Regions from separate parts of the Homo sapiens genome. Here region 2 is linked to region 1. The links come from fine-mapping of genetic effects on gene expression. Tissue or cell type: esophagus muscle. Region 1 holds a variant in brackets; the other region holds the start of a gene. All regions are shown on one strand. Distances are between the middles of the regions.

Region 1 (5,394 bases):
AATTAGAAGAGTGCTACAATTCCTTCTTGCTTGCTAAAATTCTAAGATTTGAATCAGATCATTTCTGCCCATATTTGGACATTATAATTAAGTTGGACTAAAGGAATTTTTAAAACCTCCCAGTTTGAATTTTGAACAGTTGGTAGCTTTATAACGCACTGGCTTTAAAAAAAAATCAGAGTCGCATTCAAAGAAGGGTAGATACTGCTGTTCACTTAGCTTCTAAAATATACACCCTACTGGAAACAGTCTTATTGTCTCCATTTGCAAGCAGCTTGTGTTTTAGAAGGAGGTGTAACTTCATAGAAAGCTACACCTACAGAGATCACATCTGCACAAGGGCTTTTTACCTTGGACCCCACTAGGGAATCATTTCAGATCACTCAGGGGCACTGGAGGGTCGGGGAATGTGTCTTTACAGGTCCCCATCATCTGTGGCACCATCTTGTCTCCCAGACCTCTTCTGTTTTGGCAGATGCTCTCTACAATAACTTCACAAATTGTCTTCTAAGAGGAATTCAGTTTCAATTATCCAAGGTCCTTCCATCACCTACTAAAGCCATCTTTATTTTAGTTAGAGAGACATTTTTAATCCACATGCCCAATAGTCTAAGATTCATTTACCTTTTAAATTAATACCATTGCTATAAAACAGGCATAAATTCTTACTCAGCACACTTCTCAATCTTCGTTAAAGATTTGGATTACTATCCATTTCTGGGTGAAATTGCTATTTACCACAGCACAGCATGTTGGAGTGTCCCTGAAAACTTCATGCTAATCTCCTTAGAAATTCTGGAGTATGAAAATACATAGGAAAGCTGTAACTTAAAATAACTGTAAATATTGAAATTGCAGTTTTTATTTATGCTGCATAGTTATTTGGTCTTGCTGGTTGATTAACTACTCACAAAAGATGTATTCATTTATTTATATATTTAGTTACATATTTAGTTAGATGCTTTCTAGATTATGTAGCCCATGACTACTTAGGATATTGATATACCCACAGCCAAAAATAAAACACAAAAATATTATAAATGATCTGATAATTCAGAGATACACTGTCTTGTTTCTTTGCTATTTGTACTTCCAGCCTATTTTTATTAAAAATATGCATATATATTTACATATTATAAAAATAACATCAAAATTTACATCGTGTTTTGTAACTTGTATTTTTTGTAATGCAGAAGTATATCATGGTCACTTTATGCCATTAAATAATCTTTTATCAAAATAAATGATTTATAATTTGAGTCTTAATTGATTTATTTGTAAAATTAGAAAAATACCTACTCACCGGTATTTTGGAAAAATCACATCAAATAGGATATGTACAAGGCTTTTTACAACTCTTTAAAAATATAAATTTATGATGTATAATTTTAATTACTGTCAAATATTATGTTTAAATTACTTAATGCCTAGTCTCAAATAAATATATTGCTACAGATTTTATTTCATTAGAAATAAATAAAGAATATATAAAAGTAATGGAAATAAAAATATCTGTGTAAGAATAATATTCTGCTGGATACTTTACTTTTTTTATTTGAGCACTATAATGATTTACTGACAACTGACCACGTAAGAACTAAAGCAAAAAAAGCTTTCTAATTATATTTCCTTGACACTTACTGTGTATAAGTCTAAGAGGTAGGACAAAATATTGACAATTTCTCTGGTTTTTTGGCCGTCTACCTAGATTTTTTTCTTAATTTTTATGAAATAAGATTGGTTTCATTCCAAATGTTAAAATGCGCTTGCCTTAATTTTTGTTTTAATTAGAAAATATTACTTATATGCTATTAACCTTAGATCTTGGTGATTTTAAAGAATGATTTACGGTATCCTTATTTTAAAATAAGGTAAAATAAAGTATTGTGAGAAAATAATTTTAAATAAAGGCAAAGAGTATCATTAGCACTATTACCTATGTAAAGCAATGACCACCTTATTCTACCCAGCCTTGAACTTCAGTCAAAAGCAGAGTTAGAAAGAAGGTCAATTCTGCATCTGGGTGCTTTTCATAAGGCTGTGCCCCTTTCCCAGGCCTGTTCTTGTCCCTATTTCTTGTGCCTTTCCCTCATTTTACTTCATGATAAATCCCATCCTGTGATGACATACATAAGACCATCTGGACTGAATTTTACAATGAAACCTAGGTGCACTATTATCTACCCATCTTTAGCATCAAGGGATGATTTGTTCTGATTCTACTCATCTAATTGAAATAGCATATATGGGAAACTTGTGACTTACTCCAAGAAAACTTTGGAACCCCAATCCTTTTGTGAATTGGAGACAGCCTATACATCTTTAAGAAGCAAAG[T/C]GTTATAAACTAAACATGAATTTTAATCTAAATGTTATTTTAGCTTAAAGTAAGTATCATACAATATTTTTTTAAACTTCAACTCTTACCAATATGTACGCATTTTAATCTCAGTCATGAAATTGGCCTTAAGTCTTTTAAACCTAATAATATTATTTCTGTACAAAATTTTTCTTACTTCTGAAAATGAAATAAACTTTGGCCACCATGGGTAAATGAAACTTTAATCACAACTTTTTTGGTGGGACTTCACCTTTTAGAAAATAAAGCAATCTAGCTCATCTGAATGCAGTACTGTTGATATTGCTATCTCTGAAGAAGAAGAAATGTTCTATGGAGGTGAAAGATCAAAGCATCTGAAAAATGGTAAGAAAATTTTGTTAATCTTGCTAGGAAACTAATTTGAATTATAAGTTGTCAAAATGTATATGTTCCATATCCAGTATGTCAGTCAATTGACTGAATCTTTATACATTTCTTAATATTCATGTTAAATGTACAAGTGTCACCATTACAACTTGTTTTCCTCTGACAGTTATAGGCCATTTTTATATGAGTAACTTAAATATTGGCCCTATTTCATGAGATCTAAGAACACTTCATTTGACTTCAACATATATAGGTATATGTGTGCATGTGTATGTGTATACACAAACATCTCAGTGCTGCTTTAACTATACTGATTTTCTGTTTTACTCCTAAATTGTGCTCTGTTCTAAAGCACACAGTGGTATAGCTACTAGTATAAAATCAAATATGAACATTATGTATCTTTACCCAATATTACTCACAGCATGAAAAATGTGTTTTGGAATCACCATTATTAATAATATTCCACTGCCACAATACTACTCATAGTATAATTTAACACAAGACAAAATTCCAAAATAAAATGTTTTGGCTTTAAACTCCACCTACCTCCATTTCTTTGTTTTGTCACCTGTATATCAACCTCTTCTCCAGCCTCAGGTTTCCATTTTGCTAACCCTTTTGGCCAGAGCGCAGAGTGCAGCCCCGTACACATGTACTCTACCCACAAAGTACTCCACAGTCCATGTTACTTCCGTAATAGTCTCAATAAAAATTCCCATTTTCATGCCACCTAAGAACTGGAATCAAAGCAATTAATTTGATTTAACTAATTTTATGCCTCTTAACATCTCATAAGTATTTATATTTTTAAACAGGAATGCATGTTATACCATGTGAATCTTCAAAGAGTAAATTTTCAGGCATTATATCAAAATGTAACATTCAGAAATGAGATATTTGTGTGTATTTTCTTTTGTGCTATTAGTGAATACCTATTCTCAGACTGTTTTGCAGAGTGACAACATGTTGTAGGTCATTTCTGCCTTTCACAATGCCTTTCTTTCATTACTACCGAACTCCTAAGTCCAGTTTTCCTTTTCCTGCTCAGGGATTACAGTGGTCACTACACCATGGGTAAAAATTAAATGTTTATAAATCAGAGACAACCTGGATTAGAATTTGTAAATAAATAATTGCTGTGGCACATAGTAGAAAGTTTCAGTTGTTTACTTTTTCATGAGTTTTCTAGATTGTTGTTCTTACCAATTCAATCTTGACAGGTTGCAGACGCGGATCTTCACTTGGTCAAATCAGTGGAGCATCCAAGAAAGGAAAAATCTGGCAGAACATCAGGAAAACCTGCTGCAAGATTGTAGAGAACAATTGGTTTAAGTGTTTTATTGGGCTTGTTACTCTGCTCAGCACTGGCACTCTGGTAAGTGGGCAGCCAGGGTGTTTGATACTTTGCTGGGGACAAATGTATCATGATTCTGTTAATTCAGAAAGTCAAAACCAGGATTACATTTCCAAGGATATTTAGTATAGCACCAAATAGCACCAAATTTCATAATCTGTGATTTAAAATCTAAATAATATACTTTCTTAGAAAGTTTATATATGCATCATTCAATATTAAATTTAATATTGATTTTTAATATATTATTTTGCAATATTGAATTCCAAAATATATGAGTGACAGTGGGAAATGGAATGTGAATAGATACCGGATTCTTCTGATTTTAATGAATTTTCATGTATGAAACATTTTAATGATTTGCACATCCAAAACTGCTATAATATGCTTGTACTTTGGTACCTATCAAAGGAAAGGGAACTATTGCATATGCTTTAAAGGGTCTGTGAACTACAAATGTATTTGACCCTACAATCTTAACTCTGCGCTCAGAATCTTAATTCTAAAAATATTCTACAAATATCTGCACATTAAATGGTTCTACAAGGTAATTCACTGAAGAATGTTTTGTAATAATAGCAAAGGGTTAGAAAAGAAGGTCTGTAATAGCTGACTTTATACTATGAAAAATCATCCAATGGAACTCTGTGCAGCTATTTTAAAAATTCAGAAGCTATGTGCATATTTACAATTCATCAAGATGTAGTAATAAGTGGAAAAAGAACGGTGTAGAATAAAGTGTATGGCACTCTGCCTTTTATATAGGAAAGGAATAAAAATAGAATGTATATTGGTATTTGTTTGTATTTGATTAAAGAAGATCAGAGATCTTTTAAGGAGAATTCTTACATACAAGATCTAGTTAACTGTGAGGTGCACAGAACACAGAAGATGGAGTCATGGTTGTGAACTGGACTTTGCACTGCCTATATTTTTAAATAAATTTTGTGTTATTTACCACACATATTGAAAACTCTCCATGGGTGTGCAGCAGGAATGATTTTCACAATGTGAATGCACGTTTGTGACTTAGATTGAGAAACAGAACATTTACCAGGATGCCAGAACAACACTCTTACCCCTCAGTTACTTCCCTACTCCACAAGGGTAGCCAGCATGTGGACTTCAACTGCCATAGATTAGTTTTATCCATTTCAGACTTAATAAAAATAGATTCAAACTGTGTGTTACTTTTGTATTTCTTCTTCCTCTCATTTTGTTACAGCATCCCACTTCCTCATAATGATCAGAGTCAATTATCCTTGCTGGTATGGTAACTTCTTTCTTTCTTACTAGTTGACTGGTACAAGAAATCAAAAATTAAGCAAATGAC
Region 2 (5,394 bases), 64 kb before region 1:
TGTTGGATGCTTCATCCAAATAGTTGTTGGTATTCAAATGGATGAGAAAGTTTTTAAGAAGGAAAGCAAGAGTTTGAATGGAGGGAAAGACTGTCAACCACAGAATAAATTCTTAATAAATAAGAGTGTCCATAAAGGCAGAACATAATGGCTACCATGTAGCCAGGTAGAAAAAGATGATGAAACTGGAGAACATATCTCCAAAGAAAGAGTTTTGGGTTTGTTTGAGTGTGTTTTGGGAGAGTTGTTTGCTTGTCTTTTTATACAGGGTTTTGTCAACTCTGGATGTAGAGACTTTTTTGAGAATTAAAACATCGAGTCCATCCACACTTCTGACACTGACATCTCTGAGGTCACAATAAACAGCTCCCATTTAAACAGACTGAAAGGAAGCTAATGCCCACAGTGGCGTATCGAGTTCAAGTGTAGTGTGATACAGCCAGCTTCTCTCCTGACACAGAAGAGTATGTGGGGTCTAGAGCTCCCACCTACTGAATACATACTTAGAAAGTAGAGTTTAGAAATATGCTTATAAAGTTCTTAAGGCAGAAATGTTGAAAACAGACCCTCCACTATGTAGTTCCTCCTGCTGAGAAACTCAGTGGGGGAGGAAGGATCCTCAGCTCATTATTAGGGGCACGATAATTGCCAAAACTTTTCAGATCCAACCTGGTAATATTACATAACCGTTATATAACCGTAGTGCCAAATATTTGTCCCAAAACAAATATTTGTTCCAAAACAAGAAAATGGCTAGCTAACTCAGAATATAAAACCAACACCATTAGTTTCCCATCTATTTGCCTCTCATTTATGTGATTGGTTTGTACAATATCTTGGGATCAACTGCCTGTTCATTACACATTATAAAAAGCAGTACTTCTTTTTATTTATTTTAAATATCACATGGAAACTTTGAAATATTTGATATTAAGTTCATTAAATTTATATTGTGTTTGAATGTACAGAAAGGTGTGTAGAATTTTACTGGGTGAAAAGGGATATATGTGTCAGACTGCTCTAAGGGAAGGTTTTATGCTCTAGAAAATTCATTTGCATCATCACCAGAGTGTGGAGAAGAGAAGCCTGCAGTCAGTCAATTGTCCATTATAAAGAAATCAAGTGAATGTTTGATGCTACAAAATAATTATTGCTAATTATAGATGTGATCAGGGTATTGAGTTAAAATCTTAAGTTCTTACCATTCAGAGACATATGCTGATATATTTTTGAAGTAAGTGATGTGATGTGTGCATAAAATAGGGTTACAAAATGAAGGTTCTATGGTGTGGCCTTTGGGAAGAAGGTGCAACCCCTCTGGCCTTCACTCCCAAACTACACTGTATTGCCGCAGTTTTCTAAAATAAACATAATTTTTCCTCTGTCCCTCGTGTTTCAAATCACTAGAGTGGGAAACTGATCCAGAGTAAAAGCCAGCTCCAGCTGACTCTTGACTCTCCTAAAAACAGCTACACACATACTCACACAACAACAGGATTACAAACTCTTAATTACAGCAATGTCCAGATTTGAATGCTGCAGGCTGACAATTGCCCCTCTAAGTTCTGCTGGGGCACCTAGGCAAGGGGAGAGAGAATACAACTGGAGGTTAAAGAACCAGAGTTTTCTGTCTTCCTCTCCTCTCCCTCATTTTCACTCTCCCTTCCCCCTCAGCTGCACCGCGCTGCTCCTTTTCCTCTCCTCCTTGGATGTTCCCTAGCCCCTTCATTCCTTCACGCTCTGCAGGCCCTCTCCCCTCTACCCCTCCTCATCAGCCCCCCGCTCCTCTTCCTCCCTCCCTTCCCGGCAGCTGCTGGAGGAGACGCCACAGCTGCTGCTGTTACTGCATCTGCAGCAGGTCTCTGTCAATATCACCCGCCCACGCCCGATCTGGATGCTGAAGTCGCTCACTGGCCTGGAGATTAGGGCGGGGGAGAGAGTGGAGTGGCTGGGAGAGGGGAGGGAGGAGTGGAAAGGAGACAAAAACAGCTTCCAAGCAGCGGGCGCGGCTCCACTGGACATCTGGGTAGGAGGGGTCTCTGGGTCAGTGGCTGGAGAGTCGCCCCAGTGAGTCGGTGTCTAACTGGCCATTTAGTGGGGCCCATTTACTGCAGAGCCACAGCTGGTGAGGACAGACGCCAGCCTAACAGCAGCTTCTGTACAACTAGAGCTCAGAAAACCCGAGAGATCCGTGGAGAAAGAGAAGCCCAGGAGGAGGAAAGGGCTCCAAGGAGCCCTGCTCCTGAAGGGTCCCTCAGGCACTGGTGGAGACCTGTCGCTTCGTAGCAAGTAAGTGCCTTTTTCTTGCTGCTGTGTCCAGTCCCAGAATGGTGATAGCCGCTATCCGCTGCCAGCCTTTCCCATCCACTCCCACCTGCCCCATCCCATACACACCCTTAGGGTCCCCAGCAGGAGGACAGAGATTTGAAATTGTGGACGTGCATTAGGAGAGTTACTTCAAGAGTATACTTCAAGAGCAGCCGTGGTCTGTGGGTGTTTGCATGGCATGTGCCGTCAGTTTTCTAATTCCATCAGGTAAGCTTCTGAAACCAACATTCTCTGTTAGTGTAAAATTCTAGAAACCCTATATGACAATGACTTACATTACATGGTACAATGATAGTATAAAATGGAGGAAAGGTTATGCAGATTGTTGTACACTTCTTCTAAGAATCCTATCTCTTATTCTAAATAACAGAGATTTCAAGATTGATTTTCCCAAAGGAATAGATAGTATAAAAGTAGAGGCATTGATGTGATTGGCAGTGGTGTGCTCAGTTTAGTCAGTTGGGCATTTTGGTATTGACTAGATCAACAGAGATTGTTGTTGTTGTTTTTGCATTGTTTTGCTCTATAAAATGCATCTCTTCTGGAGGTTTTCTTTTAGAAGTGATAGTGTGACTGGTTGTGTTAGCTTCAAAACTTAGAACATTGGTCAAAACAAGACAAATGATGAGTGCATGTGGAATGACACACCGATGGGCCCCTTTCATTAACGAAAATGATGGGTTCCAGTTTGGATATTGGACTGAAAAATATCTTGAAATGGGAAAGAGTTTGGGTGGTGCTTCTTGTGGATACTTTACCCCACTGCTGTTCATTCAGGAGAGCAATTTATGGCAAAGTAGAAGGAAAGTGGGCCCTGTAATAAACAGAATCCTGGGCACCATACCTGCTATGACTAGCCTTAATTAAAGATTCTATAATCCAGCTGCTGTTTTTACAAGTAAGACCTATAAGGAGTAATTTGCTGAGGCTACCTGGCAAATCAGTAATTGAGCGGGAAGTCCAATGAACAAGTCTTTGGGATTTAGAACTACAAAACTTGATTTCAATTTTTGTACAAATTAAGCCAATTATTTAACTTGAGTAAGCTTTATTTTCTTTATTTATAAATGACACTCCAAAAAGTCCTGACAAAAACTAATTGACAGAGATGATATAAAGGGTTTATGAAAGTACCATATGTGTAACTGTTGATTACATAAGGGATTATTCTGTGTTTTTATCTACTTCACTATTCTGATTTTCCTTCTAAGTCTGATTCAATATAAGCATACAGAGGGCTTTGACATGCATCTCTAGAATGCACTAGAGGAAGTGAAATTCAAATCCTTTTCTTGCCACCTGTACAGTTTAAAGCATATTCTAATCTGAAAGCCTTTATCCTCAAAAAAGTGAAAAGTGTGTGCTTTGGCTAGCTTTGCATATTTAAACCTTGTAATATTCTCCAAATATGCTTTACCCTCTTTCTGTTTTTAGTTTTAAAATTGATTTTAGGTCTGTAGTCCTGTTTCCTGGGGATGAAGCCATCACGTATATTGGATATTGCTGAATGTATTTGGCCCGTTACTTAACATAGGAGAAATCAAAATTTAGGCATAAATACTCTAATCTTGACTGCAAAGATTCATTAAAATCTTGCACCTGGGGGATAGGTACTGTGAGTCCCTTCTTTCCCATGGATATGTTTAAAGTAATAGAAGAAAGAACTCAATTTGTACATGGGCTCAGGAAAAGGGGTCATCAGATCCCAGATGGCACACGACCGTTGGACCTGCTGCTGCATATCAGTCTCTACTGGAGTACTGGAGGCAGAGCCAAGCACTTCAAAACTGGGCATTCTGTCTCCGTAGCCTCGTGTGGTAGATGGTTTGGTAGCGGATATACACTCTCACTGATTTTCCCAAAGTAGGATAAATACCTGTCCAAAGCATACTAGAAATAAAAATAACAGTATTTTCCCCAATCCCTTACTCAGGGATTGGGAAATCTGCACTCCAGCCCTAGATCTCATTGGGTTGAGATACGTGTCACAACTGGGGTATTCAGAGATTGACTCACCATCTACCTACTGCCTTAGACTCCCTCCTGAAAGCTTATGGTGGAGGCATTGGGTAAAAGGGACATTCTTGATTTCTGGGAGTCTGATCCCATTATTTCCACTAACCATTTTCAGTATTTGTCAGTGTGAGAAGAACATCTATAACCTCTGCCCACCCCCACCCCCACTCCAGATATCAGCAATGCACAGTCACCCATTATCACATGAGAAAATCTTGTACAAACAGATGTCACTTTTCTTTTCCTGCGTTGGTTCCTTCTCTTCTGTTAGTGAGGACTAACCAACCAGACAAGTGAGGTCTCATTGCAGCAACATTGAAAGAAGGAGCCTTTGAAGTTAAAGATAAGATTTCATCTGAGGGCTTCAGAGGTTATTTTTGAGTTGGTGCATATCTCTTGACCCAGCTAAGATTATTATTTTACATTCATTTGTTCAATTATTGTTTATTACAAATGAGGCGCCATCTTCTTATATTCCATCCTGAAATTCCTAGCAAACAGATATCCCTGTTGTCTCTGCAGTATTTATAATTGGATTGACTCAGCCTGGTGCTGGACAAGGATAACCAGCTCAATGGACGGCTCTGATGATGGTGTGGGTCAGGTGCCACACTGACTGCCTAGACATCAAAGAGCTTGATAGAAATGCAGAAGCTGGGGCCCCACTCATGGAAATTATGATTAGAAAGGTCTGATATTATGATAGGGCATTTGGTGTTAAACTAGAACAGGAGGTGATGCTGATTTGGGGGCCATAGACCCTAGGTGAATATATTGTGCTGAGTAGAGTAGTCTGTCTTTCCTATTTTAAATGCTAAGGTGAGGCTTCCAGTCCACCAGCTGCTCACTCTCTGAGTTCTCCCAGAGGCGACATGGTCTAAGCACTTGATTACAGGCTCTTGCCCATATCTACTCTCTTTCTCTGGCCCTGGGGCTCCATGTTGGACATTTTTTGCCCAACTCAGAGTGAGACAAAAACTAAATCATGCTCACCCTAAGATGTTTCAAGGCACCTTTCTAGTTTCTCTCTAATTTGAGAAGGGGATGGAC

Which allele goes with the higher level. Positions count from the first base shown, and alleles are read on the strand shown. Sizes are in standard deviations (SD) of each study's normalised expression.
With allele T in place of C in region 1, the expression in esophagus muscle of the gene that starts at base 2,008 in region 2 is higher (small effect, 0.15 SD a copy in GTEx).

What was found. PIP is the estimated chance that this variant, and not a neighbour inherited with it, causes the effect. A credible set is the group of variants that fine-mapping cannot tell apart.
Region 2: it holds the start of SCN7A, and the variant in region 1 is the best candidate, but not a certain one, in a credible set for the expression of SCN7A in esophagus muscle (GTEx, PIP 0.63).

What each region holds. Positions count from the first base shown.
Region 1 is chr2:166,426,476-166,431,869 of GRCh38, reverse strand. It overlaps SCN7A (sodium voltage-gated channel alpha subunit 7), which reads left to right. Exons shown (of 26, transcript NM_002976.4): 17 at 2,596-2,701; 18 at 3,928-4,082. Among named protein-coding and RNA genes, the nearest start is that of SCN9A, 53 kb to the right of the region's middle. The variant T/C (reference allele first, on the strand shown) is at 2,336.
Region 2 is chr2:166,490,863-166,496,256 of GRCh38, reverse strand. SCN7A (sodium voltage-gated channel alpha subunit 7) reads left to right here and starts at 2,008. Exons shown (of 26, transcript NM_002976.4): 1 at 2,008-2,289.